4 separate regions of the Homo sapiens genome follow, and all the other regions are linked to region 4. The links come from fine-mapping of genetic effects on gene expression. A gene starts in region 4. Each other region holds a variant in brackets. All regions are shown on one strand. Distances are between the middles of the regions.

Region 1 (8,100 bases), 110 kb after region 4:
CTACACCGCCCGGCTCTAGGGCCGGCAGCTCAGCACAGCCGGCCGCGAGCGCTGGGGAGGGGACGGGGGCGCAGGGAGAACCGGGGGACCCTGGGCGCACACAGACCCCAGGGGGAACGCAGGGCCTGGAGGGGCTCAGCGCGCGACCCCCGCCTCGGGGCACGGAGACTCCGGGGGATCACTGGGACGCGAAGGGCGCAGGGCGGACCCCAGGGGAACCGGATGGCGTCTCCGGTTCGCCAGGGCAGCTGGGGCAGCCGGACCCGAGACAGCCGGACCCGCGGGCGCCCTCTGCCGCCTCCCGGCCCTGGATGCTGCGGGGCGGGGCGGGCGGCTCGCGTGCCGGGGTGGGGCAGTCCCTGGAGCCGCCGCGGGTTCCCGGGATGCGAGCGCCGGCACCCGCCGCCACAGCTCCTGGCCAGGGCGCGCTGCCCCGCGGGTGTGCCTGAGCCTCCGCGCCCCGCAGGCCCTGGGTAAGTGTCCTGGGCGCCCCCGCAGGCCCCCGCCGCGTGCCGCCCGCGGTGGAGACGGGATGCGCTCCCGGGTGTGGGGCTGAGGGACGGGCGCCGGCGTCGGGACCCTCCTCACGCCGCATCCTCGCGTCGCCAGGCCCGGCGGCCCCGGGACGGGGCGGACACTCTGGGGTGCGGCTGGCTGGTCTCACTTAAAACTCGGACCTCGGAGGGAAGCCGCGGCGCGTCCACGGTTCGTGGTCCTCAGCGTCCCCTCGAGAGTGTTCTGAGCCTTCACTCCCCGGGCGTTCCGTGCGGGCCGCGCTCCCTGGGGCTGGGCGGGTGCGGGCGGCGGAGCGGGGCCCCGCTGTCGGGCCGAGGGCGCCAGGTCCGGGGGGCCTCACCCCCGGGAAAGGCCCATGTTCAGGCTTGGTTTCAGTAGCACCCAGTAGCGCTGAAGTCTTATTTTGAGCGGCCAGAATTCCCAGACCGGATGCCCTGAGAGAGCGATGTGGCGCCTGGAGTCCACGCTGGGACCCCTTCTGGGGAGGGGTCGCCATGGGCGCGTGACAGGCAGGGGCCACCCTCTGACCTCTTCTGCGAGGCCGGAGGTCAGAGACCTTGTGCAGAAGCGTCCCACGGGCCTGTCCCACGGGCCTGTCCGGCTGTGGCCTCCGGGATGGCAAGGGCAGGCGGGGAGGGGCTTCCTCCCTGGGCCTCCTGTGCGCGCGCACAGGCTCTCGTCTGCGGGGTTCTTGCAGAAGGGTGGGCGTGTGCGCGCGTTCTCCAAACGCCACCCCCACGGGGCCTCACAGCCGCCCCGGCCTGGCAACCGTCACCCATTTTACGAACGAGGACATCAAGGTAGGTCGCTCATCCAGCCTCTCAGAGCAAGTGACTGGCGGCGTTTGGACTCGGGCCGAGTGTGCCATACCCATCCCGCACAAAGCCGGGGCTCGATGCGGCCCCAGAGTCGCTGAAAAGCCACGAGTAACAAGAACTGGAGAACGTAGGATGCTGACCCGGCGGACGCCGCCGCCTGGGGAGCCGCTTCGACGGGGGGGACGCCACCGCCTGGGGAACGGCTTTTATTTTCGTTTTCTTACTTATCTGTATTCTCTAAAATGAACAGACACGAGTTTTACCACGGGAGAAAGGTTCTTAGAAAAATTCAGATTTCTCAGAGGAGTGCTGTCAGCTCACAGCCTGGTGGGGTTGGGAGGCCCCAGATGGCCCTGGCCGACCCCTCTGTCCCGTGTGGGACCTGCCCGTGAGCAGCACCCAGGAGTCTGTCGAGGCCCCACCCGTGGTCCCCGGCTGAGCCCCTGGCTGCAGTGGGTAGGGTCCTCCCCTGTCCCCCAATTACCTATGAGGCAGCTTCGACCTGTGTCCCAGGCAGAGAAGAACGCTGCCGTCAGGAGGCCGGGGACAGCTGAGTCTTGCCTCACAGGGGCATTTCTGTGGGGAGTTTGGTCCAGTCCAAAGGAGGCTCCATCTGTTGAGGTGAGTTCATGAGTATTTTGTAAAATGGAACAACCTATTGTAATAGCATCCCTCCTCCTGTATTTAGGCTAGGTATGGCAAGAACTGAGACACACTTCCCTGCCACCCCCTCGCATCTCTGCCAGTAGGGCCAGGAAGTTCAGATATGCTCAGGTGACCACCTGAACTCCGCGAGGCTTTTCTCTAAAGTATTATCAGCAACTGTTTCTCAAACTACTTTATCTTGATCCTTGTGCCAAATTATTTATTTCCTGCAACTGTGAGGCCCCTCCTTCATGTGGCCTGGTGTTCCCGGGAGCAGGCCTTGTGATCAGAGGGAGACGGCTTGTGGCTTAACAGGGTCTTCCCACCTCGTTCACCCGTGCTGGGTGCTGAGACGCCGGGGGAGGGGGAGGCAGCTGTGGTTCCAGCCGTCGTCATTTGCAATGCAGTTGGAGAGATGCCGCCGGGTGGCCCTGACCAGTGTTAAGTGGTTAATACGACACAGAAGCGGGAAAGCGCCATGTGGTCTGGGGTGATCAGGCATTGAAGGAGACTCAACGGAGCTCCTTGCGGAGGAGAGTCGGCTCACAGACAGGCAGGAATGAACAGGCCGATCTGCTAGGGGCTGATGACTCGGGTAGGAAAGACTTGGCGGCCCTGAAACACCTTGCCTAGCTCGCTCTTCCTTCCCTCCTTCCTTCCTACCTTCCTTTCTTTTTTTCTCTTTCTTTCTTTCTTTCTCTCTCTCTCTCTGTCTCTCTTTCTCTCTCTCTCTCTTTCTTTCCTTTTCTTTCGAGACAGAGTCTTGTTCTGTCACCCAGGCTGGAGTGCAATGGCGCTTTCTTGGCTCACTGCAACCTCTGCCTCCCAGGTTCAAGCAATTCTCCTGCCTCAGCCTCCCAAGTAGCTGGGACTACAGGTGTGAGCCACCACACTTGGCTAATTTTTGTATTTTTGGTAGAGACAGGGTTTCACTGTCTCTACTAAATGTTGGCCAGGCTGGTCTCGAACTCCTGACGTCATGCTCTCCCCACCTCGGCCTCCCAAAGTGCTGGGATTACAGACATGAGCCACCACGCCCAGCCGCCTAGCTGTTTCAATGCGATGAGTTATAGCCAAAGGTGCTTCCACTTGGAATTTTTTTTTTAATAAAAATATATTCATTTATATAAAAAAATTAAAAAAAAAAAGAACTGAGGCACAAGCAAAACCTGAAACTGGGCCAGGTGTGGTGGCTCACACCTATAATCCCAGCACCTTGGGAGGCTGAGGCGGGTGGATCACCTGAGGTCGGGAGTTCGAGACCAGCCTGACCAACATGGAGAAATCCTGTCTTTACTTAAAAAAATACAAAAATTAGCCGGGTGTGGTGGCCTATGCCTGTAATCCCAGCTACTCGAGAGGCTGAGGCAGGAGAATTGCTTGAACCTGGGAGGTGGAGGTTGTGGTGAGCCAAAGTC[A/G]CACCATTGCACTCCAGCCTGGGCAACAAGAGTGAAACTCCGTCTCAAAAAAACAAAAACAAAAAACGAAAAACCCAAAACTGGTTATTCAGGGGGCACTGGCTGTGGGGAGGGGGTAGGCAGGCCAGCTCCTTGGATTTCCTCGGGGCCCCTCCCCCACACCGCCCACAGGGAATATTTATCTGCTTCTGGTGATTTTTACCAGAACCCTTGATTTTAGAACCGTTCCACAGCACTGAGCTGGAGACACCTGGGAGAACGTGGCTTTGCCCAGGCGTTGCAGGGCGAGTAGTCACTGGTATGTGAGGCTGAGGAGGGCAACGAGGCTTCCGTCTCAATTCCGGCTACTCGGAAGGGAGTTTGGGATTTTGGGGACAAGAAGGATCTGCACTAGCCCCACCTCTGACAACATCCCCTGCCCCGCTTCATCTTCCCAGCTGTCCCACCACCCCCCGACCCGCTCTTGCCCTGTGGCTCTGCACTCATTTGGGGACGAGGGTTGGTCAGGCTGGTGGTGCCTGGGCTCAGGGTCTTCTGGGGCTGGTGTAGGTCACCCTATCCCCTTTACCTTCCTTGACCTCAAGGGGTGGTCGAGTGGGTTTGCTCTATGCCCGGCCCACCTTGGGGTGCTGGGAACCGTCTCTGGCCTGTTCTCCCCACCAGACTGGGGCCAGGCTTGGGTGCGGCTTGGGAGTTTCCTGTTTGAGTCGAAAGGCCTTGCAGTTCTGATGGGATGTCCTTGCAGGCTGGCCTCCAGCCACCAAGTGCCCAACCTGGTTTCTGGGAGAAGTGCACTGGGCCAGACACGTGACCATGATGGAGACGAGGCTGGGCATCCCACAGCACCTCGGGGGGAGGGCTGGACCCTTCCGAAGCATCCGTCCCACCCTCCGCACCACCTCCACCCACCCACCGGCATCTGTCCCTGCTCCAATCTGCCATTTGCTTTCTTTCTTAACATTCCACATATTTTGCTTATATTTATTTGTAAATTTGTGTCCTATGTGTTACATGGTGTTTGTTTTTTGTTTCTTGTTTTCTTTCTTTTCTTTTTTTGAGATGGAGTCCAGCTCTTGTTGCCCAGGCTGGAGTGCAGTGGCGTGATCTTGGCTTACTTCTACCTCCACCTCCTGGGTTCAAGCGATTCTCCTGCCTTAGCCTCCCGAGTAGCTGGGATTACAGGCACCAGCCACCACGCCTGGCTAATTTTTGTATTTTTAGTAGAGACGGGGTTTCGCCATGTTGGCCAGGCTGGTCTTGAACTCCTGACCTCAGGCGATTCCCCTGCCTCAGCCTCCCTAAGTGCTGGGATTACAGGCGTGAGCCACTGCGGCCGGCCTCTTTGTATTTTCTCGTTGAGGCAAAATGCACATAACATCAAACTAACCATTTAAAAGTGAACAGTTCAGGGGCATTTAGTACATTGACGAAGTTGTGCAGCCACTGCCTCTCTCTAGCTCCAAAACCTCTTCATCGCCTCCGGCAGTGCTCACCCACCAGGCAGTCACTCCCCAGTCCCTGCTCCCAGGTCCTGGCCACCACGAACCTTTTTATCTGAGTTTGCCTACTCAGGATATATCATGCAATGGGGTCAGTGTGTGTCCTTCTGTGTCCAGCTTCTTTCACGCATCACAGCGTTTTTAGGGTCCATCCATGTGGCAGCACGTGCCAGGGCTTCCTTCCTTTTCATGGCTGAATAATATTTCATCTTATGAAGATACCACATTCTGTTTACTGATCCCTCAGCTGATGGACATTTAGGTTGTTTACATTTTTTGGCTACTGTGAATTATGATGGGCATTTGTATGCAGGTTTCTGTTAGAACAAATGCTTTTACTTCTGTTAGGTGTGTACCTAGGAGTGGAGTTACTGGATCATATAGTGATTCTGTGTTTAACTTTTTGAGGAAACACCACACTTTTCCACAGCAGGTGCACCATTTTACATTTTCACCAGCAATGCACCAGAAACAGTTCCAATTTCTCCATAGCCCCACTGACCCTTGTTATGTTCCATTAAAAAAAATGATAGCTGGCCCGGCGCATGGTTCACGCCTGTAATCCCTGCACTTTGGGAGGCTGAGGCAGGCGGATCACTTGAGGTCGGGAGTTCGAGACCAGCCTGACCAATATGGTGAAACCCCATCTCTACCAAAAATACAAAAATTAGCCAGGCGTGGTGGCACGCGCCTGTAGTCCCAGCTACTCAGGAGGCTGAGGCAGGAGAATCTCTTGAACCCAGGAGGTGGAGGTTGCAGTGAGCTGAGATTGAGCCATTGCACTCCAGCCATGGCAACAGAGCGAGACTCTGTCTCAACAACAACGGCAACAGCAACAAGAAGCCATCCTAGTCGTATAAATGGTATTGAATTATGGATTTTTGTTTACTTGCATTTCCCTAATGATTTACAGGGCTGAGCATGTTTTCATGCGTTGAACATTGTGTATCTTCTTTGGAGAAATGTCTCCTCAAGTCCTTTGCCCATTTTTTAAATTGTACACATTTATGGGTTCATGTGTAATTTTGTTACATGCATAGATTGCATAGTGATCAAGTCAAAGTTTTTAGGGCGCCCATTACCCAAATAATGTACATTGTACTCCTTAACTAAAATCTCATCAGCCGGGCCCTTGTCACCCCCTCACCCTTCCAGGTCTCTGTCATCCATCATTCCACTCACTACGTCCGTGTGTATACAAATTCAGCACCTACTTGTGAGTGAGAACACGTGACATTTGACTTTCTGTGCCTGGCTTGTTTCGCTTAATGACCTCCAGTTCCATCCATGTTGCTGCAAAAGACATGATTTCATTCTTTTTTTATGGCTGAATAATATTCAATTGTGTATATATACCACATTTTCTTTTGATTAATCCACTGATGGGAACTTAGGTTTATTCCATCTCTTTGCGATTGTGAATAGTGCTGCAATAAACATATGAGTGCAGGCGTCTTTTTGATATATTGATTTCTTTTCCATTGGGTATAGACCTAGTAGTGGGACTGCTGGATTAAATAGCAGTTCTATTTTATTTTATTTTATTTTATTATTACTATACTTTAAGTTCTAGGGTACATGTGCACAACGTGCAGGTTTGTTACATATGTATACATGTGCCATGTTGGTGTGCTGCACCCATTAACTCGTCATTTAGCATTAGGTATATCTCCTAATGCTATCCCTCCCCGCTCCCCCTACCCTACAACAGTCCCCAGAGTGTGATGTTCCCCTCCCTGTGTCCATGCGTTCTCATTGTTCAATTCCCACCTATGAGTGAGAACATGCGGTGTTTGTTTTTTTGTCCTTGTGATAGTTTGCTGAGAATGATGGTTTCCAGTTTCATCCATGTCCCTACAAAGGACATGAACTCATCATTTTTGATGGCTGTGGCAGTTCTATTTTTGATTCTTTGAGAAATCTCCATGCTGTTTTCCATAGAGGCTGTACTAGTTTACATTCCCGCCAATAGTGTATGAGTTCCCTTTTCTCTGCATCCTCACCAACATCTGATTTTTTTTTTTTTTTTTTTTTTTTTTTTTTGAGACAGAGTCTCCCTCTGTCGCCCAGGCTGGAGTGCAGTGGTGCAATCTCAGCTCACTGCAACCTCTGCCTCCTGGGTTCAAGCAATTCTCCTGCCTCAGCCTCAGAGGCACCCATCACCATGCCAGCTAATTTTTGTATTTCTAGTAGAGATGCAGTTTCACCATGTTGGTCAGGCTGGTCTCCAACCCCTGACCTCAAGTGATCCACCCACCTCGGCCTCCCAAAGTTCTGGGATTACAGGCATGAGCCACTGCACCTGGCCGTCTTTTTAATAATAGCCATTCTGACTGGTGTAAGATGATATCTCATTGTTGTTTTATTTTGCATTTCTCTGATGATTAGTGATGTGGGGTATTTTTTCATATACCTGTTGGCCATTTGTATCTCTTCTTTTAAAAACTGTCTATTCATGTCCTTTGCTTACTTTTTAATGGGATCACTTGGGTTTTTTTGTTGTTGCCATCGTTCAATTGTTTGAGTTCCTCGTATATTCTGGTTACTACTCCCCTGTTGGATGAATAGTTTGCAAATATTTTCTCCCGTTTAACAGGTTATATTGTCACTCTGTTTATTATTTCTTTTGCTGTGCAGAAGGTTTTTAGTTTAAGACCCATACTATAGTCTGTGGTGTAATTTGAAATCATGTAGTGATATGGTTAGGTTTTGTGTCCCCACCCAAATCTCATCCTGAATTATAATCCTCAGGTGTTTAGGGAGAGACCTGGTGGGAAGTGATTGGATTATGGGGGCAGTTTCCTCCATGCTGTTCTCATGACAGTGAGTGAATTCTCATAAGATCTGATGGTTTGATAAATGGTAGTTTTTCCTGCGCTGACACACACACCTCTGTCTTTTTTGGTCCTTATGAATTTTAGGATTATTTTTCTTTTTCTCTTTTCTTCTCCTCCTCCTTCTTCTCTCTTTTTTGCTTCGAGATGGGATCTTGCTTTGTCACCCAGGCTAGAGTGCATTGGCGCATAGCTCACTGCAACCTCGAATTCCTGGGCCCAAGAGATTGTCTGGCCTCTGCCTCCTGAGTAACTGGACTATGGGTGTGTGCCACCATGCCTGACTAATTTTAAATTAAAATATGTTTTTGTAGAGATGAGGTCTCACTGTGTTGTTCAGGCTGGTCTCAAACTCCTGGCCTCAAGCAGT
Region 2 (8,081 bases), 27 kb before region 4:
CAGATGTCATCCCCTTGAGGACAGCAGGGAGGCGACTCAGGAGAGGCTGATCAGACGGGAGCCGCATCCCCATCACCTTCCAGAGAGACCTCTTCTTTTGCCAGGTGTCGTGAGGGCTGTGGCTTAGCTGGGCCTGCGTCCATCCCCGGTTCTGGGGAGATGCCCGGGCCCCTCCTGGATGGCAGCAGCAGTGGAGGTTTGGGTTTTGAGGGAGCCCTAAGAACCTGAGAGACTTAGATGGAGCATGGCACGCCCTGGAGAGTCCACGTCCCCAGACCCCTCATGCCAACACCATTCCACCCAGCAGTTTCTTCCCTGTGGTCAGAACAAAACCCCCAAGCCTCAGGCCTCAGGCTGGTTTTCTGACAGGCAAAATGCTCCTTACATAAGGAAAGACCTTTCCTTGGCTGACCCTAAAGTAGCCAAGGGGAGCTCACATCGCCTGGCCTGCCGCCACCACCAGGCTGCCTGACCAGCTCACCGCCTTGTTCTAGATGCTTCTGAAGCAACAGCTCGCCTGGCCCCACCCCCATCAAGCATCTGCTGGGCAGCCTCCCTCCCCGGCCCGCCTGTAGCTCCCAAAGGTCTCAAGCCTCAACATCCTGGTAACCAAGTGCACCCAGAGGGCTGGCAGGGTCACATGGAGGCAGGGGACCCTTGGCCCCAGGGTGGTCGTCTTCCCAGGAGGTCCGCCTGTCAGGTCAGAGGGCAGCAGGAGGCCACCCCACCTCCCCGGGTTCCCTCGAGCATTCCTTTGTCAGGAGCAGCTCCCCCAGGATCCAGGCATCCCTGGCCCCCCTTTGCCCCCGCCCTGCTCTCAGGAGCCCCCTGCCAGGTGCTCTGACCACAGGAAACAGGAGCCCTCAGGGCCACTGCCAGAGGACGGATTCTGCTGCCAACCAGAGGTCCTGGGGCTGGCGGCGCTGGTGTGCCTGCCCTGGGCCTTCAGCAGCCCCCATAAGGAGAAAGCTCCAGCCTCCCGTTCAGAGAAGGCTCCATCCTGGGGACACGCCTCTCCCAAGGTCACCCACGTGGGGGCTTTGTTACTCATGCTTCCCAGACTGCGTGCTGTGTCAGAGTTTTCACACCTGCCTGATGTCCTGGGGGGGCTCACAGAGGACCGACCCTGCAGGGAGATGCTGACCCACCCTGAGACCCAGGAGAAGAAAACGGCCAGGGTCCAGGCTGCTCCCACCATCCCTGGGGGATTAGCACCTTGGCTGAGCCCGAACTGACCACCTGGGGCGTAGGTCCAAGATTTAATTACAAAACGATAGGTGAATGTGGGTTCTGTGTGCCTGTGACATAGAGAATGTTTTCCACACCGCGTGTGAAATGACGAGAGCTTTTGTGTCACACATGTAGCTGCTACGAGACAGACGCTCTTGTTCCGGATCAGAGCAGCAGACAGAACCGGCACTTTTAGGGTCCAAACCCTGTTGCCCACAGAACGCCCATGACACCAGCTGGGTGGAGCTGCCGCCGAGTCCACGCCCCGTCTGGCTGGGACCTGGAGCTCCCCTCAAGCTGCAGATCCACTCTGCACCACAAGGTGGCCTCGCAGAGGAGCCTCCCGAGCTTTGGAACCAGAGGCAGGCTCAGCGATGCTCTCCATCCGGCCTGGCCCCACCGTGTGTATCAGGTGTCAGAGGCCTTGCTGGGTGCCAGGCCACGTCTGTGCTGTCACAGCTTTGAGGGGCCAGCGGGTCCTAGGGAGAGGCCCGTGCGACGTGAGTAACAGCAGTTTTTCTTCTGACAGCTGGGATGGAGGTGGGTCCTCCAGGGAGTGCCCCAGTCCTCGAGAGCCAGACTTGTGCACGGGCCTGGAAATGAAGGTCTCAGGCAGGGGCTGCGCACACCGATGGTCAGCATTGCCGTTCGGGGCCTGCAGTCGCCCATAATGGGCCCTGCCCCCTAGGCCTGGCCTCTTTTGCTTTCCTCCTGGATGGTTCCTCTACCCCTGGTCCAGCAGGGACTCAGCAGTGCCTGCCAGCTGCAGACCCCCATGCTCCTGCAGCCTGGAACCCTCCTGCCCTCCAAAGGTCATGGGGTGACCCAGGGTGGGAACACCAGACCCCCTCACCCCGTGTCCACCGCCCATGGCCGGGCTCACAGTGTCTCAGAGCCGTGGTGAGCCATCCTAGGACCAGTGTACCTCACAACCTTTCAGACCAGTGAAGGCCAGTGGGCTGGGTGGTCCAGGCATGTCCCCAACGCAGGTCCAGCCATCTCTGCACAGAACTGGAATCTCGGTTCATTTCGGTTTCAGCAGGTCCCATGTAGTTAGCAGGACAGCACTTGAGTTAGGTCTGAGAAAGAACGCCTGTTTGTCATGGCATTTCCTGTAAGGAGCCCAGAGCCGTGGCCCCAGGTTGGGACGGCGGCGCCAGAGCTGGGCCTGAGTCTGACCCAACCTGTGCTGAGTGGTCCTGCTGGAATGGGAACCCCAAGAGGACCACCCCTCTCTAAAAGAAGGGAAAACAGTAAGCGAGAGGGAGGCTGCAGGGGCCCAGACCTTGGCTGACCTTCCTAGCCATGGTCTCCACCCTCCGAGACCCAGGGGCCCCGCAGTGACAGCAGGGTGTTGGGCCACACAGAGCCCGAGTAGGTAAAGGAAGGTTCTGGAAACCACTTTTCAGAACCCAAAAGGTGTCTGGGAAATGGCGTTACCTGCCACTGTTGTTAAGTGTTTACTTTGTATCAATACTGAATTGTTAAAAATTTTAATCATAAAAACCAATGGAACATGTTTTTCTACTGTGTCCTTCGAGATTCTCTTATCTGGTCCTGGAAAGGGGCCGTGTGTCTGGGGAAACCTCTTGTGCACCTCATGAGGGGAGCCCGGGGGCCCACATCGGCTGGCCGAGGGCGGCCACCCCTGAAGGGTGGGGTCAGGGCCCACCCACCTCTTCACACACACCTCCGCCTGCTGGACAGTGCCTGGGCCCCACAACGGAGCACAGTCCCTTCTGCATGGGTCGCCTCCCGGGGAGAGGCATTGCTCAGGCTCAGGGAACAAACTGGGGAGGGTCAGACAGGGAGGCTGGTGGGGCACCCATGACCAGCACCCTCCAAGCTTGCTCAGCAGCCTTCCCCCTCCCACTGCTGTTTCTCTTTCTGTCTCCC[CGT/C]CTGTCTGTCTTTCTCAGTCTCTGTCTCTGCCTACCAGTCTCTCTCTCTCTCTCTTAGTCTCTGTCTCTCCCTTTCTGTCTCTCTCTCAGTCTGTCTCTTTCTGTTTCCCTTTCTCTCTCCCTCAGTCTCTGTCTCTCTCCCTCTTAGTTTCTGTCCCTCTGTCTCTGTCTCAGTCTCCGTCACTCACTTCTCTCAGTCTCCCTCAGCCTCTGTCTCATGGCCGTGACCCTCCAAAGCCCATGGACACGTGGTGCCCTGTAGTGATGTGTGCAGTGATGTGTGCAGCGATGTGTGCTGACCCTGCCCTGAGTGGCAGTGTCACGGGGAGAGGTGAGTGCAGCACCCATCAGCTGTCCAACACGGTCAGTGCTGGGAGTGAACCATCAGGCACCGCCCCCCAACACAGGTGTATCCCATTCCCTGCAGCTTTCCCTGCCGCACAGGCGGCAGGGTTGCAGACAGGACACTGCAGCTCAGAGAGAGCTGGGGGCTCATCCGAGGCCATCAGGGAGGCTCCACCTCTCCCAGCCACTCTCTCCCATGGAAAGTAGGGAAGCCACCCCCGCCGGGTCCTTGGGGAGAAGGAAAGGCACAGGGAAGGGGCAAAACAGCAGCTCCATTCCTGGCCACTCGTCTCACCCCAGATGCGAGGCGAAGTGTGGGAGCGGCCCCAGAGGCCACTGTGGAAAGGGAACTGGTTACCGAGTGAGGCGCAGGGGCCTGGCCTGTTCTCTGCCCCGTTGACTGGTGGGGGAGGTGCCCAGAGCTGGGCAGTAGCCCCGCTTGGATGGTAAACAGGACCTGCCCGCTGGCCTCACCGGCCGCCAGCACGAACGCCTGCCAAGACTGGCTTTCTGCAGCATGGAGCACAGGCTTCTCTGCCCAGCCCTGCCATGGGCACGGGCTGCCTTTCTGTGTCGGCTGGGTGCCTGAGCCAAGCAGCTCCCAACGGCTGGGTGCCTGAGCCAAGCAGCTCCCAACGGCTGGGTGCCTGAGCCAAGCAGCTCCCAACGGCTGCGTGCCCCGAGGCCGGGCAGACGCAGGTGTCCCAGGACCAAAATAGCAGTCAGATGATCATAAGGCCCCGTGGCAGGGCCCCCAGGGCAGGCTGCTCACAGCTGCTGCAGCTAAAGATAGGCGTGAAGGGCACACGCCTTGGGGAAAGTCGTGGGGAGCGGTCCTGTCTCGGGCCATGGACACAATGAGGTCACTCCGCTTCATTTCTGCAGAAGCTCTGGTGTCCCACCCCCAGGTGGCCCGGCAGAGCCTGGACAGCGTGGCCCACAACCTCTACCCACTCCTGTTCAAAGCCAGCTACCTGCTGGAGCAGGCGGAGGTGACGCGCGCGGTGCTGGGGCGCTGGCCCCTGGAGGAGTTCCGGCTGGGAGCGCTGCTGGGTCCTGGTGCCGACCACCCCCAGGACCTGCGCGACAGAACCTGCAGGGCCTGCCTGGAGGCGCTGGTGCGCGGCCTCGCGGACCACGTGCTGCAGGACCGGAGCCGCCGGCGGCTGCGGGTGGCTGACCTCACGGGCATCCGAGATGTGCAGGTGCAGCGGTGCCCGTGCGGGAGGGCGCTGGGCAGGTGGGGCCGCACCCAGCTGCTGGCCAGGACCTGCTGTGAGCTGCAGGCAGAGCCCCTCGCAGCCGGGCGCCCCGTCGAGGTCCTCGCCGACCTCTTCGTCACTGAGGGCAACTTCGAGGCGGTGGTGCAGGCTCTGAGGCCAGCGGGCCCGGCCCCTCTGCGGGTGCACTGCCCCTCGTTCCGGGCGGACAGCCTGAGCCCCAGCCAGCTCCTGCACGTGCTGCGTCTGGCTGGCCCGGGTGCCCTGCGCAAGCTGGAGGTGGTGCACAACGTGCGGCTGCATGCGGGCCACGTGCAGCAGCTTCTGGCCCAGGTGGGCTTCCCCCGGCTGGCCTCGCTCACCCTGCCCACCAAGGCCTTTGATGCACCCCCCACCTACGCCTCCACTCCCGACGGCGAGGACCCCCTCCTCGCCTCCATCGCCCGGGAGCTCAGCAAGATGGCGCAGCTCACTGAGCTCAGTGTGGCCTTCTCCACGCTGACCGGGAAGATCCCGACGCTGCTTGGGTGAGTCTTGGGGAGGGGACTGAGGGCGGGCTGGTGGCTGCAGAGGCAAGGAGAGATCGTCCAGGGGCCTGCTCATGTCCAAGGCCATGAGGCTACACGGCCTCCAGCCTCTCACTCCGGGTGTGGCCACAGCCACAGGACAGCGGCCCCGCCAAGGGGCAAGAGCACCGAAAGTCAGAGCCACCAGGAAAGAAGCGGGCTGCCATGTGTGACTTAGGGATGTGGAGAGAATGCCAGTTAAAAAAAGAGAATACGGAAATTACCAAACAGACGAAACAGAAGTGCCTACGTGGTGTGAGGAGTTGTCTATTGTTGATGAACGACTCACCCCAACACTTGGGGGCTTCAAACAGCAAACACGATTTCAGCTCAGAAATCTGAGCCTGTCGGTGCCTTTGGCTCAGGGCTGCTGTTGGCCAAGGGTGCCATCTCATCCGAAGGCCTGACAGGGCGGGATCCTCCCAGTCTCCCTCGAGGGAGGCCTGGGCTCCATGCTGCATGGACCTCCCCATGGTGGGACAGGAGGCTTATGCAGGATCCTCTCAGCAGATCTGCGTGAAGGAGGCAGAGAGGGCAGCAGCTAGGAAGGGGCCAGGCCAAGGCAGCCTCAGGCAGTGGTGAGGGGGATGCCCGGCGGTGGGTCCAAGGGGGGTGCCCAGCAGTGGATCCTGGAGGGGGAGTGCCTAGCGGTGGGTCCAAGGGGGGTGCCCAGTGATGGGTCCTGGGGAACGGGGTGCCTGGCAATGGGTGCTGGGAGGGAGCCTGGTGGTGGGTCCTGAAGGAGGGGCAGCTGGCGGTGGGTATTGGGGTCACCGGGTGATGGGTCCTGGTGGGGCAACCTAGCGGTGGGTCCGGGGGGCACCCAGTTTTGGGTCCTGGGGGTGGGACCTGGCAGTGGGTCTAGGGGGAAGGGGTGCCTGGTAGGTACTGGGGAAGCACCTAGAGGTGGGTCCTCAGGTGCTGGGGGGTGCCTGGCGGTGGGTTCTGGGGGCTGGGGGCACATGGCAGTGGGTCCTGGTGGGGCGTTTGGCAGTGGGTTTTGGGGAGAAGTGCCTGGCGGTGGTAGGGGTGCCTGGTGGTGGGTCCTGAAGTGGGGGCACCTGGTGGTGAGTCCTGGGGTGGGGGGTGGCTGGCTGTGGGTCCTGGGGTGGCACCAGGCAGTAGATCCTGGTGGGGGATGCCTGGCGGTGGGTCCTGAAGGATGGGGGTGCCCTGCGGTGGGTCCTGAGGGATAGAGGTGCCCTGCGGTGGGACCTTGGGCAGGGGGCATGCCTGGCGTGGTTTCTCAGGTGGGACAGGGGCACCTGGCAGTGGTCCCAGTCCTGGGTGGGGAGGGACATGTCCTGGGCGGGACATGCAGGTGGGTGCAGGTGCAGGTGGGTGAAGAGTGAGGCAGCCTCCTAAGGAGAGGGTTGGGATGGGGCAGACCCCAGCTGTGTCCCCCGGCTCAGCGAGGACAGTGAGGCCATGTCCCGATGCAGTTCTGCTCTGGAGATCTCCCTTAGCTCAGAACCAGAGTAGGTCTCACTCCAACTGCCCCTGTATTAGAGCTAGGCTGCCCTACACCAACCAAGTCAGAATATGGGATGTGGGGCAAGTTGGGGGGTCTTTAGGGTTCCCAGGTGAGTCAAAGGCTGTACTGGAAGCCTCCATGGCCCTTCCCAGCTCTGAAACCATGCGGGATTCATCTTTGTCAGAGTGGAGCGGCACTGTCCTGTGGTCTCACTGCCCCCCGCCGTCTGCTTTCTGAGCAGACATTCTGTCCTGTGGTCTCACTGCCCCCCGCCGTCTGCTTTCTGAGCTGACATTCTGTCCTGTGGTCTCACTGCCCCACCCCGTCCACTTTCTGAGTGGACGTTCTCGTGGTCACATGCATCACTTTTCTCAGACAACACAAAAGCAGCTGTTGACAAAACAAACTTACCATTTAGGTGCTGAGGACAAAAGCCAGACCTCTGGGTATAGCTGACTTCACCACGTGGCGGCCGGCAGTCATGGCCAACACTAAGCGAATGCACGTGGTTGTGCTCTGGTAAAATGTTATTTATGGACACCGAGTTTGAATATCATGTAACTTTTCACGTTTCACAAACTATTATATAAATATAACAACCACTCCTAGCTCATAGGCTGTATGAAATTAGGCGGTGGTTGGACGTGACTGTGTGTTGACCCCATGATGGACAAATGGGTTGTTCCCATTCGCCTGAGCCCTCGGCTCCTTCCTGGGACCCTCCTCTCACCTGTGCTCTTTCCCCCGTGTCCTGCAGCCCCCTACAGACCCCGCTGCGAGTACTGGACCTGGCCAACTGTGCCCTGAACCACACGGACATGGCCTTCTTGGCAGACTGTGCCCACGCTGCCCACCTGGAGGTGCTGGACCTCAGTGGACACAACCTGGTCAGCCTGTACCCCTCGACCTTCTTCAGGCTGCTCAGCCAGGCTTCCCGGACGCTGAGGATCCTGACACTGGAGGAGTGTGGCATCGTAGACAGCCACGTTGGCATGCTGATCCTGGGCCTGAGCCCCTGCCACCGGCTGCGCCAGCTCAAGTTCCTCGGGAACCCGCTGTCGGCCCGCGCCCTCCGGCGCCTCTTCACCGCACTCTGTGAGCTCCCCGAGCTGCGCTGCATTGAGTTCCCGGTGCCCAAGGACTGCTACCCCGAGGGTGCCGCCTACCCACAGGACGAGCTGGCCATGTCCAAGTTCAACCAGCAGAAATACGACGAGATCGCCGAGGAGCTGCGTGCCGTGCTGCTGCGGGCTGACCGAGAGGACATCCAAGTCTCCACACCTCTCTTTGGAAGTTTTGACCCAGACATTCAAGAAACAAGCAATGAGCTTGGTGCTTTCTTGCTGCA
Region 3 (8,100 bases), 78 kb after region 4:
TTGGGGCCCTGAGGACTGTGTTTTGTTGGGAACGTTCTTGGGCGTTTCTTTTGTACACAAGTGCAAGTTGCTTCTGGTCAGTAGCTTTCAAGTTTTAAAATTTCATCCCAGGTAAGAAATGTAACTTTCCTCATAACCCACAACATACTCTTTCATATACAAGCATAACAAAAATAGACTTCACAACCGTTCTTAGCAGGGCGTGGTGTTCCTGCTTCTCTCCATTCTCCCCAACACTGGCATGGATTGGGTTGTTGGTGGTGGGATTTTTGCCCATCTGGTGGGTGTCACGTGATATCTCCCACTGTTAGGCTGAGCCCCTCTTCATGTTTTCATTAGCCATTCCTCCACATTTCCTCTTCTGTGGAGGGCCAGTTCAGCTCTTTTCCCCAGTTTCTGTTAAGTTGTTTGAATTTTTGCACTTTTCTTTTATTATTCCTATTGTTATGTTTTTGAGACAGAGTCTCACTCTGTTGCCCAGGCTGGAATGCAGTGGTGTGATCTCAGCTCACTGCAACCTCCACCTTCTGGGTTCAAGTGATTCTCCTGCCTCAGCCTCCCAAGTAGCTGGGATTACAGGCGCCCGCCACCACCCCTGGCTAATTTTTGTATTTTTACTAGAGATGGGGTTTCACCATGTTGTCCAGACTGGTCTGAAACTCCTGACCTCAGGTGATTCTCCCACCTCAGCCTCCCAAAGTGCTGGGATTACAGGCATGAGCCACCATGCCTGGCCTGCCTTTTTCTTTTTCAAAAGGACTCTTTATACCTGTTCATTCCGGTGACTATCTGTATGGCAAAGATGGGTTTGAATCCACCAGGATAAATGTGCAGGATCTCCTCTCTGGTGGGAGAAGAGACAGAGAGGGATAGAAGGGTATGGAGAACAGAGCCGAGAGGAGGCCGAGTCAGGCAGGGGTGGCAGGCTGCTGTGAGGACTTGGCTCCGTCTCTGAGTCGGGTGGGGATTAGCAGAGGATTTAAACAGAGGAACCATGGGATCTCCCTTATGCATTTCTGCCATGGTTGGCTCAGCTGAACGCACCTCTTGAACAAGACTTGGCCTTGGACACCTAGAGGCCCTTGGTTGAGGGTTTACCTCCTGGCGTGGCCACTGACACATCCACGTTTGGCTCCCACACAGCTGGGCGGCCCCAAGACCTGCTCTGCCTGGGCTTCTCATTGGTGGCATTTCTCAAGTTTGTCCCCTCTCAAGTCTGCACCATCCGGAAAACCAAACACCTCTCTCTCCTACATGGAAACCCCCATCAGCACCTCCCCCTGACTCACAGGGCATCCCGTCAACATCACAGTCCCGACTTTCCCATATGGACAAGCCCACAGGACCCCCTGATGGACCAGGACAGCGCCAGCACTAAGACATGCCCTGAAACTCACAGGAAGACCTGATCAAGAAGACGGGAACAGCACAGGGCACTGGGAGCTGCAAACACCCACGATACTGTCAGAGATGGAGAAAGGTATGACAGGAAGAGCAGATCAAGAAGACGGGAACAGCACGAGGCACTGGGAGCTGCAAACGCCTGCGATAATGTCAGAGATGGAGAAAGGTATGACAGGAAGAGCAGATCAAGAAGACGGGAACAGCACGAGGCACTGGGAGCTGCAAACGCCCGCGATACTGTCAGAGATGGAGAAAGGTATGACAGGAAGAGCAGATCAAGAAGACGGGAACAGCACGAGGCACTGGGAGCTGCAAACGCCCGCGATACTGTCAGAGACGGAGAAAGGTATGACAGGAAGAGCAGATCAAGAAGACGGGAACAGCACGAGGCACTGGGAGCTGCAAACGCCCGCGATACTGTCAGAGACGGAGAAAGGTATGACAGGAAGAGCAGATCAAGAAGACGGGAACAGCACGAGGCACTGGGAGCTGCAAACGCCCGCGATACTGTCAGAGACGGAGAAAGGTATGACAGGAAGAGCAGATCAAGAAGACGGGAACAGCACGAGGCACTGGGAGCTGCAAACGCCCGCGATACTGTCAGAGACGGAGAAAGGTATGACAGGAAGAGCAGATCAAGAAGACGGGAACAGCACGAGGCACTGGGAGCTGCAAACGCCCGCGATACTGTCAGAGACGGAGAAAGGTATGACAGGAAGAGCAGATCAAGAAGACGGGAACAGCACGAGGCACTGGGAGCTGCAAACGCCCGCGATACTGTCAGAGACGGAGAAAGGTATGGCCATGGCTGACACAAAATGTTACTCAACATTTATCACAGGCCTAAATGGAGAACATAACGCTATAAAACCCTTAGATAAAAACACAGGAAAATTTGTATGGCCTGGGGTTGGGCGAAAAGTTCTTAGACATGACACCAAAAGCATGATTCATAAAAGATTGACAAATTAAATTGTCATAAATTTAAAATTATAATGCTATAAAGCAATATAAAAATCTAAAGAGAATGAAACACAAACCATGGTCTAGAAATAAACATTTGTGAATCACACGTCTCACAACGTACTGGCACGCAGGATATGTGAAGAACCATCAAAACTTAACCATAAGAAAGTAAAAGCCCCAGTATTAAAGAGAGGGCAGATATTGGAACAGAGGCCTCATCAAAGAAGGTATAAGGAGGGCATATTGCCCGAGAAAGAGGCTCAACGTCGTAGAGATGCTGGAGAAATGCCAGTCAACAGTACCTCTGCAAATCTATTAAAATGGCTAAAAACAGACAAAAACCACAGGCCGACCCAGGTTCTAGTGATGATGCAGAGGAACTGGGACCCTCATAAGCTGCAGTGGGAATGGGAGGGGTCCCGCCATGCTGGAAAGTGGTCCGGGAGTTTCTTACGAAGTTAAGCACATCCTTACCCTGTCATCCAGCAACCCCGCTCCTGAAACGTCCCCCAAGAGAAAACTTAAACGTGCATGCACAAACCTGCACACAAGTGTTTAGGCCTCATTCCTCATTGCCAATAACTGGAAGAAAACAAAATGTCCATCGGCAGGAGGAGGCGGGAACCAACGCGGATGCTTCCACACAGGGGGCACCAACCAGCAGTGGAAGGATGCACCCAAATGCCCCAGGTCTCCCAGGCCACATGCCCAGTGAAGGAAGCTAGTTTCGGTGC[G/T]CACAGGCCGAGGGATGCCGCCACGTGACATCTTGGAGAAGACAGTGCTACCGTGTTGGGGAGCAGGGCAGTGGTTTCGAGGGGCTACGGGTGGAGGGGCGAATGGAGGAGCTCTCTGGGGCGGTGGCGTGAGCACCTGCACCTCACTGTGGGCTGCTGCGGCTGAGGGGCTGTACAGCAAACACTAGCTTCAGTACACGCAGACTGAAGGAGGAAGGCTGCCACAAGTCAAAGACAGAGGGTGTCACCTCCATGAAACAAAAACATATTAAAAAAAACTCTTAAAATAAAAAAACCACAAAAAGTATTTCATAAGCGTATTGGACTTTGAGTTGACATCATCTACCTGGGAGCATGGAACTGAAACCACAGGCTTGGCAATCCCAGAGGGAGAGAGTGGAGGGTTTAGACCTCCATTGAAGGGCTCAGTACCTGGCTATAGGAAATAACATTTAAAAAGCGGCAGGGTGGAAATAATTTCTGCTGATGAGGTTGCATTTCTCCAGATAACCGGCAGAGTAAATTAAAGCAATATAGTAAAACAATGCACATATTGATGGAATCTCAGGATCACAAGGTTGTGGTGAAGGAAATTTGAAGATGTCCAGGAAAGAAAGACAAATGAGATGAATCTTGCAGCTGCCCTTCAAGGGGGCATGGGCCGGGTGGCCATGATTCTCCGTGATGTTGCAGGAATTCTGGCTGGGTCCTCAGGAGCCTTTTTTTTCTTGTCCACATTCACCTTCGGTGGGTGGTCCCTGGTGGTCATGACCGCACTCAGGGCCCGGGGCCTGCTGAGGCTGCTCTCCCTGTTCCCGGAATGCAGGGGTTTGTTCCAGATCCCGCTGCTCTCCACACAGAAAGCCAATCACTAAGACGATAGTTACTGCCAATGAAGAAGGCATGCATCAGAAGCTACAGGCCAGGAGATGGGAGGTCAGCTTCAAATCCATCTTCCTGACTGACTATATAGCAGGGAAGAAGTGTGACTGTGTGTAAGGAAAACAGGAATTAGGGAGAGTGAGGAAGAGGAGTTGGTCAGGAGGAGGCAGGTGGCTGGTCAGGCACTCATGATGGGTGAGGGGTTTGGCGTCTTACTGTCCAGATGGCGTGATCTGGTGAGTCTCTCTTCCTTCACACTACCTGGGAGGCCTGATGGTCAGTTTCCTAAGAAAGGAACTCAAATAAGACAAATGTCACTTTCTCAAGTTTTAAGACCAAAAGGATCCATTTCTATGTTATTCAGAGAAACCATGAACATCAATTCTCTGGGACAATCAGGCCAGTTCAACACCAGATCTGATCGGCCACGACACCTGCTGCTCGACCCTCAGATAAGGCCCAGAATCCAGTGTCCTCTCCCCCACCCCAGCCTGGCCCCACACCCACACCTCCCCACTTCACCCTGGGCCTCTGCTCTCTCGCCACAGAGGGGTCAGGGAGCTGTTCACGCCCCACGTGCACCTGGGCACGTGGCATATTTCAGATGCACCTGGTGTCACTGTTTGCACAGACCTAAGTGGGAAGAGATCCAAATGCTCGTTCACTGCAGGTGGATGAGGACATCCCAGCAAGTCCCTCAGTGGAGTCAGCCAGTGCAAGGCGAGTGAGGGACCCCCAGAGACATGAATGGGTCTCAGATAGTGTGTGAGTGGATGAAGCAGCAAAAACACACGCTGCTAATTAATTGATTTATGTCGAGCTCAAAGTAGTCCACATCAAAAAGACTGTTTGGGGCTGCAGGAATTCAGTGGATAATTGCAGGCAAGGCAAGGGAAGGTGGACCAGAAAGGTGAGGAGGACGCTCCCTTCGAGGGTGGAGAGAGTAAGACTGGCATTGCACATGGGTGGGGGGGCCCGTCGAGGCCCCTCTTTGCTTCTGAGAGTCTGTTTTCATCGACAGTCTTCTACTAAATGTACATAGCAGCTTTTCAGGGCAAGGGTCACCGGGATTCGTCTTTATGCCTCCCCAGCCCGGGAGCCACCACCTCCACCAGACCCATCCACACAGTTGAATCTCATCTCAAGTTCTCTGGTGCCCGACCCCCCACGCACACCGTGCTGGTCTGGGCATCTCACCTGCATCCGCACAAGTGCCTCAGGAGGGTGGAGTGTCTGGTGCTCGGCGCTGGAGGCTCAGCCCACACTGTGCCGGGCAGTCGCAGGCCTCCCAGATGAATGAAGCATGAATGAATCCCGATCCTGTTATCACAGCTTCTCCCCACGCATCCCAGGCAGAATGTTGTGCAAAAACCACACCAGGATTCGTACATGCCAGAGGACTGAACTTCTGCGTGTTGCAGATAATTCATCTTCCTGAATCACTGTGGATCTACCATGTGGTTAACCACGGAATAAACATGGGGGAGAGCGTAAGCGCTGTCCTAGCAGAAACTTATGCTTCTTCCGTTACCCTTAAAAAGTAAAGGGTACGGATTTCATAATTGTGTTTCTCTTGTAAATGAGACTCTCATGGAAAAATCAGCCATGTAGGCGATAGATTTGTATACCTTTAGATTAAAATGTCACTTCGATTATTTCAAGTGTAAAAGTGTTTCAGCTTTTTTGAGGTATAATTGCTACACAAAGAGCTGCACACATTTCATGTGTGCACTTTGGTGAGACTTGACCTGAGCAAACACCCATGAAACCATCACCAAATCAAAGCAATCGAGGAATTCCACACTTGCTGGGGGCTTCCTTGCACCTGTGCCCGTGGTGAGAACACAGCACGAGATCTTCCCTCTCAGCCAATCGCAAACGGCCCACAAGAAAATGACACCAGGCCTCCTGGTGAACACACACCCTGTGATTTAATTGTTGATCTTTTTAACCTGGGGCTCACATTCTTCATTCAGAATATGGCAAAGACTTTAGAAGTCATCCAAAGTATCAGTAATTTGAAGTCCTTTAATACAAAAAGTATAGAATATGACCTTTTGTCACATAGCAATAGGGAAATGAAAAAAGAAAATCGACTTATGTTCTTTAATGGCTAGGAAAATATTCTTAAAAAGAGATCTCAAGCACAGGTGAATCTAACAAATGACAAATTTATTTCTTTACATAGATAAATATAAGGTTAGATCCACGTAAATAAATGAAGCCATTAAGGGTAGAGTCCCACAGACCACAGCGTCCAGCTCTGCTATCGATATCAGGGAGTAATTTCCAGGCACACAGAACTGACCCAGCATCCAGCTCTGCTCATGATTTCAGGGGTAATTCCCAGGCACGGGTCGAGCTGGAGAAGCTGGGGGCCCCCATAGCCCCACTGTCCTTCCTGCCTCATGGGGTCTCTGAGGGGTGCCTGGAACATTTCCTCTTGGGCTTTGAAGATCATTTCACTTAAACACATTTTCCAGGTGCCATGGACCTGAGCCCAGAAACTTCACGGTACCAGGACCACCCGAGACAGTGGCTCCCCAGGAGTGAGCACCAGGCACTGTCAGGGGTTCTCTCCCCAGCACATTTACAAGGACATGATGGGTTCTTCTTCCTGCAGAGCAATCCCAGTGGGAAGAAGGAGGGGACGGGAGGCCTGGCAAACTCTCCTCCCCAGCTCCGTTCCAAGCTCTGTGGGGCTCCGGCAGGCCCCATGTCATGTGCAGATGAGGGATTAGGGTTCCTCCCGGCCTCGCTGCTCTCAGGCCCTCAAGGGCTCCTCTCACCACCCCCGTGCAGCCAGCGGACCCTGCCCCCACCCAGCTGCTCCCCCCAGCTGCTCCCACTCAGCTGCTCCCACTCAGCTGCTCCCACTCAGCTGCTCCCACTCAGCTGCTCCCACCCAGCTGCTCCCACCCAGCTGCTCCCCCCAGCTGCTCACCCCCAACTGCTCCCCCCCAGCTGCTCCCCCCCAGCTGCTCCCCCAGCTGCTCCCCCCTAGCTGCTCCCCCCCAGCTGCTCCCCCGCAGCTGCTCCCCCCAGCTGCTCCCCCAGCTGCTCCCACTCAGCTGTTCTCACCCAGCTGCTCTCACCCAGCTGTTCCCCCCAGCTGCTCCCCCTCAGCTACTCCCACCCAGCTGCTCCCCACTAGCTGCTCCCCCCAGCTACTCCCACCCAGCTGCTCCCCACTAGCTGCTCCTCCCCAGCTGCTCCCCCCCAGCCGCTCCCCCCAGCTGCTCCCCCCAGCTGCTCCCCCCCAGCTGTTCTCACCCAGCTGCTCCCCCCCAGCTGCTCCCCCCCAGCTGCTCCCCCCCAGCTGCTCTCACCCAGCTGCTCCCCCCCAACTGCTCCCCCCAGCTGTTCTCACCCAGTTGCTCCCCACAAGCTGTTCCCCCCAGCTGCTCCCCCCAGCTGTTCCCCCTCCGCTGCTCCCCCCCAGCTGTTCCCCCCCAGCTGTTCTCAGGTTTCTCATCCTTCCTGGATGACGCCCTACCTGGGGCACCCGTTCCTGTGGCATCCCCAGTCCTGCACTGCAGCACTCAAACCCCGTCACCTCCCTGGCGAGACCATGCTGGAACCGTGATCAGCCCATCGGTTTCATCCATTATCCTCCTAGCCCAATTTCTGTGCTGATCTCTCGTTCCCAAAACATCTTGGAATTATAAGAAATTAACTTTTTTCAAGTCTCTGTGCTTCTGAAGCTGTACTTTTAAGAAATAATTCTTACGTTCTTTTGAAGGTTTTTTTTTTTTCTTTAAGACAGAGTCTCACTTTGTCGCCCAGGCTGGAGTCCAGTGGTGCAATCTCAGCTCACTGCAAGCTCCACCTCCCGGGTTCACGCCATTCTCCTGCCTCAGCCCCCCGAGTAGCTGGGACTACAGGCACACGCCGCCATGCCTGGCTAATTTTTTGTATTTTTAGTAGAGATGGGGTTTCACCATATTAGCCAGGATGGTCTCGATCTCCTCACCTGGTGATCCGCCCGCCTTGGCCTCCCAAAGTGCTGGGATTACAGGCGCCAGCCACCGCGCCCAGCTGGTATTTTTTTTTTTATTTTTTTATCAAATACAGTTGAGGCTCTCTTGGAGATCACATATTAAAGAGAACTGAG
Region 4 (8,100 bases):
AACTACTGATACAGCAACAATCTGCATGGACCTCAGGGGGTTATGCTGAATGAAAAAAGTCAACCCGAAAGGTTATATACTGTTTGATTCCATTTACATAACATTCTTGAAATGACAAAGTTCTGGAGATGAAGAACAGATCAGTAGCTGCCGGGGGCTATGGAGGGAGGGGCGGTACACAGGGCAGCACGTGAGGCCCCAGGGATTGGGGTATCTTGACCGCATCCTGGCAGATGTCTTGGCTGTGACACTGCACTATCGTTTTGCAGATGCTTCCACTGGGGAAAGCTGGGTAGAGGGTACACGGGCTCTCTGCATTACTGATGACAACTGCATGTGATTTACATGACCCCAAAATAAAATATTTAATTAAAAGAAACTGAGTTGGGCCCAGTGAACTCAACCAGTCCCTTTCAGCTCTAAAACTATGTTTTCTGGGTCAGGGGAGGAAACAGGAGGTACAGGAACACTAGAGGGGAGAAAGCACGGAGAGATGGGAAAAGCACGGAGAGAGAGATGGGGAAAGGGCAATCAAGAAGACTGAGAGAAAAGGGGGGAAGCAGAATGACAGAGGAGGTGTGAAGAGAGAGAAGCCCTCTGGAGTGCTGAAATACTGAATATTCTCCCCTGGGAGCTACTCAGGGTAAGAATTTCTCCAGGGACTGCTCTTTCGGGCAAGCACAATTACACACATTTCTATGTTATGTTAAGTAAAAATCTAGTAAATGGGCTGGGCACGGTGGCTCACACCTGTAACCCCAGCACTTTGGGAGGCCGAGGCGGGCAGATCATGAGGTCAGGAGATCGAGACCATCCTGGCCAATGTGGTGAAACCCCGTCTCTACTAAAAATACAAAAATTAGCTGGACGTGGTGAGGGGCGCCTGTAATCCCAGCTACTCGGGAGGCTGAGGCAGGAGAATCACTAGAACCAGGGAGTCAGAGGTTGCAGCAAGCCGAGATCGCGCCACTGCACTCCAGCCTGGCGACAGGGCAAGACTCCGTCTCGAAAAAAAAAAAAAATTCTAGTAAATGAAGCGAGTGATCAGGACAAAACTAGCCTCTCATCAATAAATCAACCAATAGCGCTTATCAAGTATTCATATGTCTGCCTCTTCTTCTAGACTACACTAGGGGCTGGTTAACGCTCCTATGTGCAACAGAACCTCAAACACATCGTAACACACCTTTGGAGAATCCTTACAAGAACACCAACTTAACAGTTCTCTCTGACCACACTACCTCAGCAAAAAACCAGGAAGAAAAAAATATTCTTCAACCCTTTTCAGGGACAGAAAGCATCATTTCAAAAGTCCAAGAAGGGAAGGTAAGAATTTCAAAAGTGAAAGTTATCATGAAAGGCTATAAAAGCTGGAGATGAGTCTGAAAAACAAATGGAAAATGAGTCACTTCAGGGCCTCTCCCAGCCTCAAAGCCAATTAATTATTACATTAGTCAGAGTAATTTTAAGCCTTCCAATCCACTCACCCTAGCCACAGGCAACAGTAGCCTCTCCAAGTGTTAAGGGTTTTTTTTCCCAAGCCTGCAGGCGGATGAGCTTTTTACATGGCAGCCCCTTAGGATTGGATGTGGACCTGCCCTGTCTTTCACCAAGAAGCAAGCACTGCGCAGATCACTGAATCATAAAAACCACCTGCTCTTACCAGCCTCCTCTTCCTCTACAGCAAAACTTCTGACCTGAGACATGGAAGCAGATAAAAAGCCACTACACAAAATGTATCGCTACAACTAGAGGGCAGTTTTGCCTTTCTTCCATTCAATTATTCAGTTTCTCATGTTCCTAAGTGCCAGCCCAGAACCATGGAATGTGAAGAAACACAAAACTCACTCCTCTGCATCAGTGAATTGATTGTGTGGTGGGGATGTAAGTCTGCATATGACCGGCAGGTCCCCAAAGTGGTGCCAAGTCAATCTAAACTAGAGAGAATTTTTCTGGCCAGGCCAAGCAGAGATTTCATGGATGAAGTCTCCCAAAGACTGATTTCCTAAACATTAAACATCACTGGTTTTCCAAAACTGGTTTTCTTTTTTTTTTTTTTTAACCCTGTTGCTCGGGCTGGAGGGCAAGTGGTGCCATCTCCACTCACTGCAGCCTCGACCTCCCAGGCTCCACTGATCTTCCCACCTCAGCCTCCTGAGTAGCTGGGACTACAGGTGTGCACCGTCACGACTTGCTAATTTTTGTATTTTTTTGTAGAGACGGGGTTTTGCTGTGTTGCTCAGGCTGGTCACTCGATCTGCCCACCTGGGCCTCGCAGAGTGCTGGGGTTACAGGTATGAGCCACCACGCCCAGCCCACTGGTTTCCTTTACACCCGTTTTGTTCCCCAGCAGTCCTTATGAGGGCACCTGAAATAAGGAACCTCCTCCCCGACTTGAGAGCAGCAAAGCCTTCAGAGGGAACTAAGTTATTAAAACCCACCCCACACAAAATGCTTCTAAACGCCTTGGCTGACTTAATCCTTGCAGTGTGCTGAGGTTAAGTATGATTATCCATCTCCTGTGAACAGGAAGACTGAGGCTCAGAGCTTAAGTGATTTGCCCACGGTTCACTGCAGGGGATAAAACTCGGCTGTCCCTGGCAGGTCCCAAAGTCACGGCCTTCAGGCTCCCACACCATGCTGCCTCCCTCACCGGGGCTCCACACTCTCAGCCTGGAAAACACGAATTTTAAGAAAACCATGACTTACGAAAAGCAGCCAATCCCAGCATTGGAACCAACAGGGCATAATTCCACCTGCTTCCATCACCACCATCCGCCCTGGAATTAGGCCGGATATTCCAATTTGGGGGATCATTTAGGTTATTCATGGAGATATACCTTGAAGTAAAGAATAAAAACGTTAACTACTTTTATTCAAGAAATTTTTCTTCAGTTTTAACTATGTGCTTGCTGCACAGCACTGAGGCCCTACGGGATTCAAAGAAGAAAAAAACTAGACCAGAGCCGGGCATGGTGGCGGGCACCTGTAGTCCCAGCTACTCGGGAGGCTGAGGCAGGAGAATCGCTTGAACCTGGGAGGTGGAGGTTGCAGTGAGTCGAGGTCGCGCCACTGCACTCCAGCCTGGTGACAGAACGAGACTCCGTCCCCCCCAAAAAAAAAGAAAAAGAAAAAGGAAAAAAAAAACAAGAACTTAAGATGAAAGCGACTCACAATCTGGTTGGGGAAAGTGGAGAAAACAGACATGTCTTAAGCATCTGAAGTGCAGGTAGAATCAGGTAAGTTCTCTGGTACAAATATGTTTAAATGTATGGCTGCTGCGATGGTTAATTTTGTTTGTCAACTTGACGGCATCATGAGGTGCTCAGATACATGGTTAAGCATTATTTCTGGGCGTGTCTGTAAGGGTGTTTTTGGATGAGATTAGCAATTGAACCTTTAAACCAATTCCTCACGTCTCCCTTCTATTTGTTGTGTCTCTGGAGAACCCTCATACAGTTGTATCAAAGATACAGAATCAACTCGATAAAAGTGGGCTCACACCGGACACTTTCATATGAGCTAGGGTTTGAAGAGTGAGCAGCATTTTGACAGGCAGAGAAAGAAGGAAAGGGTCTTCTGATCAGAAGGAAGACTGTGAGGAAGGCAGGGAGGGGTGATGTGGGGAAGGTGCAAACAGTGCTAGAAGCTTCTGAGGCCTCCTCGTGGTGGTGATGAATGCAGAGATTACAGAGTTCTCTGCTTCGGGCTCAGCATGCACCCTCCATAGCTAGGCTGGGGGCTAACGTTAGTAAGAATTTACTGATTTACTGAGTACCTACACGAAGTTTCACATTTTCACAAAGTAGAGTCACTTTAAGTTTGTTTACATGTGACCTCCACAAACACACACAATTACAAAATAGTTTAGTTAATCAAGGGATGTATAATAAACAAGAGGTCGGAGGCCCCGGGCCGCTCCCGCCCACCTCCGCGGACGAGCGCCCCCCTCCGACCCCATTCCCTGCGGTCTGGGCGTTCAGGCCCTTCGGTCTGGGCGATCCCGGAGAACCACCCACGGGGCTTTAAAAATGTTGGTGCCCACCACCTCCCCGGAACAGGGCCCGCTCTACCTCGGTCGGGGAGCGCGGGACCTCAGCGTTCCCTTAACGCCACCGTCCGCGGGTCCGCTTTGCGCAGGCGCGGCGCCCCCACTCAGTACCCGCTCCGGGCGTGGCATGGTGCGCAGGCGCGATGTCCCCCACTGCAGCCCCGCTCGACTCCGGCGTGGTGCGCAGGCGCGGTATCCCCCCTCCCCCGCCAGCTCGACCCCGGTGTGGTGCGCAGGCGCAGTCTGCGCAGGGACTGGCGGGACTGCGCGGCGGCAACAGCAGACATGTCGGGGGTCCGGGGCCTGTCGCGGCTGCTGAGCGCTCGGCGCCTGGCGCTGGCCAAGGCGGTGAGTCCGTGCCGCGGACCGGGGCGGGGCAGGCGGGGGCCGAGGCGGCGGTAGGAGCGGGACGGTCCCCAGCGGGTCCGAGCGGAGCGGGCGCCGGGTCCCTGCGCCCTCTGTCCCGGGATCGGGAAGGGGCTGAGAGAGCCCTGGGCCGGTGCGAGGGGAAGCCGCGGGGCGGACTCGGGGACCCGGGGAGCTCGGTCCTTAGTAGATAGTCCGCGTCCGGGTGAAGGTCACAACCCCGCGGGCTTGCTGGGCGTCCCCTCCGCCGCCTTGGTCCGGGCCTGGGGTCCTGGGACCCCGCGGGCTGAGGTAGCCCCTCGCCTCAGTGCCTGGCAGGTGGACTCGGGGAGGAGTCGTGTCTGCCCAAGGTCACCCGGGCGGATAGCGGCCGGTGGCCGCCCTGGCTGGGCTGGGCCTCTGCCGCCCTCTGTGCGGGTTGTCCTGAGGAGCAGCCCGCAGCCCGTGGGTGGGGCCGGCGGGGCGGGTGAGACCGCCCGGGTGGGTGCGAGGAGTGGCCGGGCTCGGCCCGGTGGGCGTCCGGTGGGAAGCGTGGCGCGCCCGAGCTTAGGCTTGCAGTTCGCCTTTCCAGAAAGCGCAAATCTGTCCATGTCCACTTCGAGACCTTGTAAGTTAAGGGCTTCTACTTTGGGTCGTGTTTGGTGGTCCTTATGCCACCAAAAATGTGCCAGTGTTTAAAAGCAGCTGTGCCAGTTTTTAAAACTCAGGCGGAGAGCTCAGCGCACTGACCGGGCGAGGACGCCGGGACCTGTGCTTGCCTGTGCGCTGAGTGCCTCTAGGGCCGGGCTCGGCTTAGTCCAGGATGGTGGTCAGGGTTATACTTCCCTGAGCCCTTGCTCTCTGAGTGTCTGAATGTGCCCTCTACGATTGCATCTTAAGAATCGGCCTTCTAGGGTTTTATTTAATCAAGCTAAATTGGATAGGTTTAGTTGTTTGGTTCTTTTAAATGAACTTACCCACCCACCTCCTTAATTACAAAGTAATTTTAAATTGCAGAATAAAAATCTCAATAGGAACCAAGGCATTCAGCAATATTGATTTGAATTATGCCTGTAATTGTGCAATTTTCTCCTTTTTGAAATACTTATTAAAAATCTCGTTGAGTTAAATGTGAGGATTAGTCATACAGCCATCCTGCCAACATCAGAAAGCGTGTAAACCGTTCTAGTGTGTTGCTGTGGTTGGTACTGACTGAGCAGAGACCCCTGCCGCATCTTGGGCTTTTAAGAGCTGCTAGGAGGGCGTCCACAAGCAGGAAGGAAAGCCCATGGTCAGTGGGGCTTTTTAGGGGAAATGGTAGCTTGTGATTGGAGAAAAGCTAGAGCTAGTGCCTTTGTCCTCAACCCAGATGGTGCCCGGTGTTCCTTCTGCAGACTAAGACCCTGCCAGCGGCGGAGGCACCTCAGACGGGATGGCAAGATAGCAAAATTGAACCAAAATTTAGTCTTGGGTTTTGTAAAAGTCTTTTTATCTTGATGAAGTTAGCTTTTCCTACAGAAATTCTGCCTGCAAGCAGCATATTTATCGGCATTTCAGATAGGCTTTTTTTCCTGAAGAATTGGAGTTTACGAAGGAACAGCATAATCAAAAAATTAGCAGAAAAAAGAAAGAAATTCGTGATAGCCAACTGAGAAATGTGTTTGGAAAATAGATGCTGAGGATAATTTCAGTAAAGTCCAGAGAGAATTTTTTAACCTCATTTTGGCCAGTTCTGTGGTGTTTTGATCATTCTGTATTTACAACTGCTTTCAAGTGACGAACTTATCAGACTTATTTTGCTTTTGGTTTCTTTTTATGGCCCAGTGCACTGACACAGCTTGCAAACTGTTCGAAAGCAGTTTAATCAGAGGAAAAAGAAAACCAAGAAACTTCAATAGTTACTGGTTAACTGCTTACTTCAGGTGAAGTTTTTCAAATCCCTTAACATGAACATCCAATATATTGTTCTAGGACAAATTGATTTCTTTTCTTTGAATGGATTGTTCTGAATATGTTTAATGGTGTTCTAGAAATACATTATTTAGGCCATTATAGTAGTAAACCTTTGCTTTGCTTCTTGGGATAATTGTAACAACAATGGCATTCCATTCTGCATTCCTCATGATGTTTTTCCTGATTTATTTGAAAAATTGTGACTTGTTTTTTGATATGAAACCTGGATATTAATATTAGTTGGGAGTCTCAGAGATTTTTCCCAAGGGTCTTTAGATAGGGGGGCAAGTCCAGGATCCAGAGCCAGGCCGGCCGACTTGAATCCTCTCTGAGCTCCGTCTTTCCGTGGGGTTAGTGAGGATTCTGTGGGTAATGTTTGAAACCTTTGGTGATGCTCTTGAGAACCAGGGCTCACAGCCTATGCACAGTAACCATGTGTGAACTGAATTTTTTTTTTTTTTTGAGACAGAGTCTCACTCTGTCACCCAGGCTGGAGTGCAGTGGCGCAATCTCGGCTCACTGCAAGCTCTGCCTCCCGAGTTCACGCCATTCTCCTGCCTCAGCCTCCTGAGTAGCTGGGACTACAGGCACCTGCCATCATGCCCGGCTAATTTTTTTGTGTTTTTAGTAGAGACGGGGTTTCACCATGTTAGCCAGAATGGTCTCCATCTCCTGACCTCGTGATCCGCCCGCCTCGGTCTCCCAAAGGGCTGGGATTACAGGTGTGAGCCACCACGCCCGGCCGAACTGTATTTTAAGTATCCCTGTTTTTAAAATAATAAACACTAAAATTCTAGTGAGAATAATTACACGCAGTTGTAAAAGAATCAATGAGTATACCCTCCCTCACCCAGTTCATTTTCCATGAAAGCAATTCCTGTTTCTGATACTGACTCCTGGCATTTGTAATACCTCTGTTTCTTTAGCGGATATGCAGGTGCATTTTTATCAGTTTTAGACTTCTTGCCTAGAGAGGGGATTTAGTTCACTTAAACTACCCTGCTTCCGCTTCTTCCTGATACAGTCGTGCGTTTTTAGGTTCTTCGTTGGCTGCTTTTGTGATTGTGTAGGTTGTACATGCAGATTAGTTTCTTGCTCGTGATTTATAGGTGCGTTGTATTAGATGAGGACCCCTTACTTTGCTAGATTTCGGATATGAATGTCTCTGCACTTCTTACTTTTCCCCTCCACCTCCTAATTCAGTCATCTGAAATTCTGTATTGTTAAGCAAGGTCTAAGTATTCCTTTTAGTTATATGTTCCCCATTTTTTTTCTTGAGGAAATGTTTGATAGTTTCTCCTAAAAAAATTAACAATTGGCACAAAAGACTAGTTTTGTGTCAAAACTAGTTTTGAGTTTTATCTAAAGACTGAAATTGGCTTAAAGTTGGGCTTTCCAAATTCAAAAATCTGCCCCAGATTAGATTTAGATTGAGAGGGTTAGTGTCCTTTTCGCCAGGGGGATGGCGTGATAATTTGTTCAAGATTGTGTTATAGTAGCTGCCCCTTTTAAGCCAGCTCTGTGTGTGTGTGGTGGGGGGTGGGCAGTGGGTCTTCCACATCAACATCCTAGAAAGAACGAATAAACATTGAGTGATCTCACTGTTTCTACTTACATTTGGTATAATATACTGTTCTTACTGGTGCTATTACTATGTTAATAGGGCACTTTACAACATTTTCAAGAACATTTGTATTAAAATTATTTCAAAGACTTCTTTCTTAAAATATGATTTTACCATGCAAAAATTT

Evidence for each region. PIP is the estimated chance that this variant, and not a neighbour inherited with it, causes the effect.
Region 1: its variant is fine-mapped to the expression of SDHA in whole blood (TOPMed, PIP 0.93).
Region 2: its variant is fine-mapped to the expression of SDHA in whole blood (INTERVAL, PIP above 0.99).
Region 3: its variant is fine-mapped to the expression of SDHA in whole blood (INTERVAL, PIP 0.98).

What each region holds. Positions count from the first base shown.
Region 1 is chr5:321,347-329,446 of GRCh38, forward strand. AHRR (aryl hydrocarbon receptor repressor) reads left to right here and starts at 368. Exons shown (of 11, transcript NM_001377236.1): 1 at 368-473. All of the region lies in intron 3 of PDCD6-AHRR (PDCD6-AHRR readthrough (NMD candidate)), which reads left to right. RefSeq lists silencers at 1-479, 570-949, 960-1,019 and enhancers at 604-1,171, 1,260-1,379. The variant A/G (reference allele first, on the strand shown) is at 3,398.
Region 2 is chr5:187,218-195,298 of GRCh38, forward strand. PLEKHG4B (pleckstrin homology and RhoGEF domain containing G4B) reads left to right here. Exons shown (of 20, transcript NM_052909.5): 20 at 1-2,749. It overlaps LRRC14B (leucine rich repeat containing 14B), which reads left to right and starts at 4,278. Exons shown (of 2, transcript NM_001080478.3): 1 at 4,278-5,220; 2 at 7,491-8,081. The coding sequence starts at 4,322. It overlaps LOC124900929 (a long non-coding RNA gene), which reads right to left and starts at 7,510. Exons shown (of 2, transcript XR_007058670.1): 1 at 7,145-7,510; 2 at 5,511-5,771. RefSeq lists enhancers at 1,258-1,437, 1,397-1,691, 1,738-1,877, 3,943-3,992. The variant CGT/C (reference allele first, on the strand shown) is at 3,127.
Region 3 is chr5:291,823-299,922 of GRCh38, forward strand. All of the region lies in intron 2 of PDCD6 (programmed cell death 6), which reads left to right. The region is part of intron 2 of PDCD6-AHRR (PDCD6-AHRR readthrough (NMD candidate)); the gene reads left to right. Among named protein-coding and RNA genes, the nearest start is that of PDCD6-AHRR, 24 kb to the left of the region's middle. RefSeq lists a silencer at 3,185-3,355 and enhancers at 4,657-5,185, 5,186-5,714. The variant G/T (reference allele first, on the strand shown) is at 3,105.
Region 4 is chr5:214,020-222,119 of GRCh38, forward strand. SDHA (succinate dehydrogenase complex flavoprotein subunit A) reads left to right here and starts at 4,301. Exons shown (of 15, transcript NM_004168.4): 1 at 4,301-4,399. The coding sequence starts at 4,337. CCDC127 (coiled-coil domain containing 127) reads right to left here and starts at 4,134. Exons shown (of 3, transcript NM_145265.3): 1 at 4,074-4,134; 2 at 2,710-2,840. The coding sequence starts at 2,830. RefSeq lists silencers at 4,112-4,441, 4,672-4,911 and an enhancer at 4,311-5,119.